Linked DNA regions of Homo sapiens: region 2 is linked to region 1. Evidence: fine-mapped expression QTL. Tissue or cell type: thyroid. Region 1 holds a variant in brackets; the other region holds the start of a gene. All regions are shown on one strand. Distances are from middle to middle.

Region 1 (2,890 bases):
AGAAAAAAGACATTGAAAAAAGGAAACTTCACAGAGGCCTGTCACTTAAAGAGGGTCCTGAAATAGAGACACCATTTCCTCAGGACTTAGCTCCTGCATCAGGGGTTAGGACACAGAGATCAACAAGCAGCAGGCTTTGCCCTCAAGCAGCTCGCAGTCTAGTGGAAGATGGGTAAGAAAACAGATCAGGACGCCCACGGGTGCAGATGCCCTGGAACAGAAGCTGATCCAGGAAGGCGCGAGCCTGCAGGCCGCCCTCCAGTCTAGGCTGGGCAAGCACCTCAATTTTCATCTCTAAGAGCCTGTGCCCACACCCCCTGCCCCGTTGTTGTTCCATCACTCCACTAGAAAGGGCGCTCCAGAAGCTGGCCTCGTGCAGCTTTCTGTCTGCTGCTGGCCTAGGCAGAACAGCGGAAGAAGCCATCAGGGCTGGTGAGGGAAGCACCCGTTTGGACTTTAGCCTTTCAAAGCTCAGAGAAGGGTGAGCTCAGGGAGGTCCAAGGTAGCTGAGAGCACTTCCTGGAAAAGTGGGATCAGCCTTCGGCCTTGGCACAGCAACCAGAGGGTATCGCCCACGTGTCCCCTACTCCCTCAGACACCACCTCTCAGACCGCCTGGAAAGGGACAGAACTCGTCATGAGGCGGCTGTGCTCTGAGCACAAGGGAAGGGCGACAGGATGCTAGAGAAGGGAACCACTGGCCTGGGCCCGGACAGGGCAGGCAGAAGCGAGCATGCACAGCAGGCCGTCAGCTACCCTGCCAGCATCAACATCCTTCAGGGGTCCCCCCAGTTCCAGGAGACACACCTCTAACCTGCTCCCCTGACCCTTCCGCCCAGTCCTCATGCAGACACCAGGCATGGCAGAGGCCCTGCAGGGTGGAAGCACTGTGCTGCGGGCGGGGGCTGCCTTCCTCATGTGCTACTGGAGAGTAGCACAGTGCAGGGGCCTGGGCACTGGTGCCAGGCAGGAAGCCCCGGTACTGGCCTGGCTTGCTGTGGGCCTGGAAGACACAGCTCTGAGGGAGCCACGGGAGGGACACCCTGGAGCCAGCACAGCGCTCTGGTGGCAGGCACACACCCAGCACGTTCTCAGGGCCAAGGGCCCC[A/T]GCCCATTCCCAGCCCCTTTCTGCCTAGCTCTGCCCTGGGCCAGCTCCAGGTCACTGCCAAGGACAAGTCTCCTCTCCCAGCTGGCATTAGTCAGAGGTCATCCTGCAAACCTTCGGGGGGGGGGGCAGGGAGTGACTAGTGGCGTTCTGCCACGTTCTGTCTGTCCCAAATGTGACGAACAGGAACCCAGAGAAGGCAAGCGAGTCCTCTACCCGGAAGCCCCGCCGGTTTACTGAGCCTCCCAAGCTGCCCACACCCAGGGAGGCAGACAGGACACACACTCGGCGGGTGGCCCTGAAGCGAGGCCTGGCCCAGCCCGGGGAGCAGGAGGACAGAGAGGGCAAGGCCTTCGAGAACAGGTGTGAGCCTGGCCTTCAGTGGGGGAAACAGGTTGAAGGGCTGTGGCCGCTTGGGGGCTCCAGGCAGGAGAGAAAGCAGAGCCCTCCCCACAGCTGCAGTCACACACCGCACCACGTACACACCATGACAACTTTTATTGCCCTCAAGAGAAACTCCAGTCCACCTGCTCCACCCACCCTCCTGCGGGACCAAAGAAAACACCCAGAGGGCAAAACAAAAAGGGGCTCAAACCAACAGGAAGTCAGCCCCACCGCAAGCCGGACTACAACTAACTCGTGCTCTCCACGCTCAGGCGTGGAAGCCAAGGCTGTGCCAGGCCTGGCCAGGCCAAGCAGGATGACAGCAAACGCATTCTGAACGTGTAGCAATCAGGTCCCCTGTAATGTGCTTGGAGAGTGTGGACAAGGGCCGAGATGACGAGCTATGAGCTGTGGAAGGGAATGGGGGAAGCAGAAGGGCACAAACAGAAGTACTGGAGGGAGAGGCCGGGCTCTCAGGAAGCAGCAGGCACGTGCCAGGTGGAAGCCAGCTGCAGGCAGGGGAGGAAGGAGGCCCTTACTCTTCCTTCTTGTCCATGGGACCATCTACTGCAGCCTGGAAAGGGACAGAAATCCCACAGCAGTAGGTTGGCCGGGTCCACTCCTCCCCTGCCACCTCCAGCCCCATGCCCCAGAGGTCCACCTCGGTTCCCCTCTCTCCTAACAACAGCTATTCAAGTGAACAAGGGGCCCCCTCCCCAGCTGCACCCAAAGGCCTGCCAGGGTGGGAGCGTCAGCCCTGGCCCACGCTCTAGGGAAAGCCCTGGACCTAACGCCAGCCAGGGAGGACTGCCAGGACCTCACTGGGGGCTGAGTCCTGGCTGCAGGGAACAGCAAGGCATCCAGTCCCCTTCAAGACCTGATCAGACCCTTCCCAACTCTGCACACCTTTGACAGGTGCCCTCGAAGCCCATCTGCCAAGCCTGCCCCATACAGAGGGCATGGGTGCCCCCTTTGAGGCTGGACCCTTCCTCCCCACCTGCTGTGGTGCCCAAACTTGGGCCACCAAGCACTGAGGCCAGCTGTCCAAAGTTAGGAGTATTTATGTGGCCCTCACTCCCAACGTCAAGACCGCCTGGGCTTCCAGATGCGGCCTGGTGCACCCAAGCTAGTCTGAGGACTCAGATCAGGCCTAGGGCAGCAGGTGATGGCCACAACTAGCGCCTGCTAGGGAAGGTGCCTTTTTGACACCTTGTGCCCTCACTTGCCCAGGGATCTTTGCCCTACGTCACTCCCCAGCACCCTAGGAAAGAAGGCCAGCAGTGGGTCCCAGAGTTTCACCTGCTTCTTTGTTCTTGACCAGGCCCCAAACCATGGCTGCGCCTGAGCACGAAGGTAGGAAGGCTCAGAGCCTAGTGAGCCAGTGCCACTCCTGAGGGCCGCC
Region 2 (2,875 bases), 26 kb before region 1:
CCACCCCCCACCACCACTCACACATGCCATCTCACAGACTCACTCACATTCACACACCCCTACATATTCACACACACACACATCATCTCACACCCACTCGCGTAGTCACACACACATGCCATCTCACACAGGTACACACACACACACACACACACACACACGATCACACACGCGCGCGCACACTCACGAGCCGAGCCTCTCGCGGATCTCGTAGACGCTGCTGATGTCCTCCGTGTGTTTCTTCAGCAGCAGCATGTCTGCAGGGGCAGGGGAGAGGTGATGGGGGTCTCTCCCCGCCCCGCCGGGGGCAAGGGCAGCTTCCTCCTCCACCCCCTGCCAGGCAGGCCTCAGCCATTGCCGCTGCGCGCTCGACCCTCCCCTCCCCCGTCCAGGTCCACACCCCCAGACGGACGCCTCCCAGCGAGGCCACCGCATACACGCCTCCACATCCCAGGCCTACAGCTGCTATCCCACGCACCCTCCCCCGCACCCCGAAGGCGACCAGCGCCTGGATGCTGCCTCTCTGCCTCCACACATCCGGCCGCTTTCCAGAAGGCTCCATGCTCACCCACGCCGTCCCTCCCCCATCCACACATCTACAGCGCCCAAGCCCCCACCCCCGCCTAGACCCGCCACCCATGGCACAGCGCCCACAGGCACCCGCTGCCCAAGCCACCAAGCCGCCCGGGATGCACCTGCGACCCCCGCGCGCAGCCACCTGCCAAGACCGCGGCCACCCACGCGGCCGCAGACGCAGCCCAGCCCTCGGCGCCGCGGAGCAGGGGGACCTGGCAGCCTGGGCCGCCCGCGTCCCGAGCTGCGTGGACCGAGCGCGTGCGGGCAGGGGGCGCGCCAGGCGTGACAGGTGTGCTGCGGACGCGCAAGGCTGCGGCGGCCGCGGGCCGGATCCGGTGCGCCCCCGCCCCGCGCGTCCCCGCGCCCCGGAGCAGGTGCAGACCTGGAGCGGGTGCCGCAGCGTCGTGCCGCGCAGTGGCCGCAGCGCCAAGCCCCCCGCCCGCGCCCCGCCGGCCCCGCCCCCTCCGCGCACGCCCCCGCCAGCCGCCCAAGCACGCAGTGGCCCAGCGCGGCCGCGGCGCCGCAGGGCACCTTGTAAGGCAATCGCCGGGATCCGGCTCGGGTGCCGGCCGCCACCGCCCAGCCCACTGCTCGCTCGCGCCGCCTCCCGGAGCTGCGGCCCGGCTGGGCCGGCCCCAGGGCCTTTGCACCACCGGTGGCTGTCTCCCGGAGAGCTCTTCGGCCACAGGTCGGCAAGGCTCTCTGCCTTCCAGTCTCTGCCTTCACCGCCTCTCCGAGGACAGGCTGACCCGGCCACTTGCCCGAAAGCAGCCTCCATGCCTAGCTCCAGGACCCTGCAACCCTGCACCACAGCTCTGCCACCCTGGGCTCCCGGCACTCACTGGGCTCCCTCTGGCTCCACCATTAATCCCTCACCCTCGCTTTCTTCTCTACCCAGCAGCCAGAGCATTCCTTTTATTGAGATCATGTCACCCTCCTGCAGCTCTCTATGTCAATCCAAGTCAAAGCATGAGTCCTTAGGGGGCGGCCTAACGACTGCCCTGGCCCCTCCTCCTCCACCTCTTCCCCGGCCACACTGGCCTCCTGACGGCCCTAGCCTTTGCTCCCCTGCCTGGAATGTTCTTCGATCAGATATCTGCCTGGCTTGGCTCCTCGTTCCATCAGATCTCGGCTCAAATGTCCCCTCCTCAAACCGGCCTCCCCCGCCCTGCCCCTGCCAATTCTCTCCGCATAACCCTGCCCTGTCTTTAGAACGTCCAACCGCAAAAATCACCTTCTTCGCCTGGTCTTCCTCACCAAAGCGTCCGCTCCCAGAGAGTGTATCTCCGCGAACCCAACCAAGACGAGCCCAGGAAATAAGTGCGGGTGACCGAATTCAATCCTGCATCCAACAGTTACTGGACCCCCCTCGCTGCTCGCCATCCAGTCCCATGAGGTTGTGGCCAGCATCACAAGGGTTCCGTCAAGTGACCGTGGGCCCTGGCATGACACGACGTCTTCAAGAGAGTCCACGGGGCAGGAAGAGTTTTTAAAAAATCATTTTTCCAGACCTCAACTCCCATATATACTCTGTGTAAAAACTGGGAAATCTGAGAAGGCCCCTAGCAGCTCTTGCCCCCTGGCCTTTCCCAGTCACCCCTCCCAGGACACTGCAGAAGGCTCCAGGGACCCCAGCACTCAGAAACTCCAGTCCCACCTGCTCCTCTATGTGAAAATGGTTTCCTGGGACCGACATCTAAAACAGAAAAAAATAGGAATGGAACTGATGGTGAGCCCCTTCTCATGACAGCAGGAAGTGCAATTTGTTTACAGATACCTACAGATAGTTCCCCAGAATGTCTAATACGCCAATGGTGCTTTGCCCAAGCAGAGTTCTACAACATGGTCCTGGGTTATAAAAAGAAATAGAAATACACATATTTCTGTGCCCCAGAAAAGTAATAAAAAACTGCCCGCGTGGAAAGAGATGGCACAAAGAGACCTATCTGAGGGGCAGCAGATGGAAACTGGAGGCCAGAAGGAAAGCACCCACCTCCAAAGTGGGCCTGGGAAAGACGAGCCAGCGGGCAGGTATTGGTCCACGAGGTGACTCAGGTGGCCCTGGCCTCATGTAAAAGCTGATGGCACAGTTTTTGTTTGAATCATTGTATCATGGGGTTTTTTTTGGTTTGTTATTGTTGTTGTTGTTTGAGACAGGGTCTCACTGTCGCCCAGGCTGGAGTGCAGTAGTGCCATCTCAGCTCACTGCAGCCTCTGCCTCCTGGGTTCAAGCAATTCTCCCGCCTCAGCCTCGAGTAGCTGGGACTACAGGTGCATGCCACCACACCAAGCTAATTTT

Alleles and levels. Positions count from the first base shown, and alleles are read on the strand shown. Sizes are in standard deviations (SD) of each study's normalised expression.
For the expression in thyroid of the gene that starts at base 992 in region 2, allele T in region 1 goes with a lower level than allele A (moderate effect, 0.51 SD a copy in GTEx).

The links. PIP is the estimated chance that this variant, and not a neighbour inherited with it, causes the effect.
Region 2: it holds the start of PNCK, and the variant in region 1 is the best candidate, but not a certain one, in a credible set for the expression of PNCK in thyroid (GTEx, PIP 0.79).

What each region holds. Positions count from the first base shown.
Region 1 is chrX:153,698,914-153,701,803 of GRCh38, forward strand. BCAP31 (B cell receptor associated protein 31) reads right to left here. Exons shown (of 8, transcript NM_001256447.2): 8 at 1,579-2,062. The coding sequence ends at 2,024. Among named protein-coding and RNA genes, the nearest start is that of SLC6A8, 12 kb to the left of the region's middle. The variant A/T (reference allele first, on the strand shown) is at 1,108.
Region 2 is chrX:153,672,822-153,675,696 of GRCh38, forward strand. PNCK (pregnancy up-regulated nonubiquitous CaM kinase) reads right to left here and starts at 992. Exons shown (of 12, transcript NM_001366977.1): 1 at 959-992; 2 at 188-257. The coding sequence starts at 255.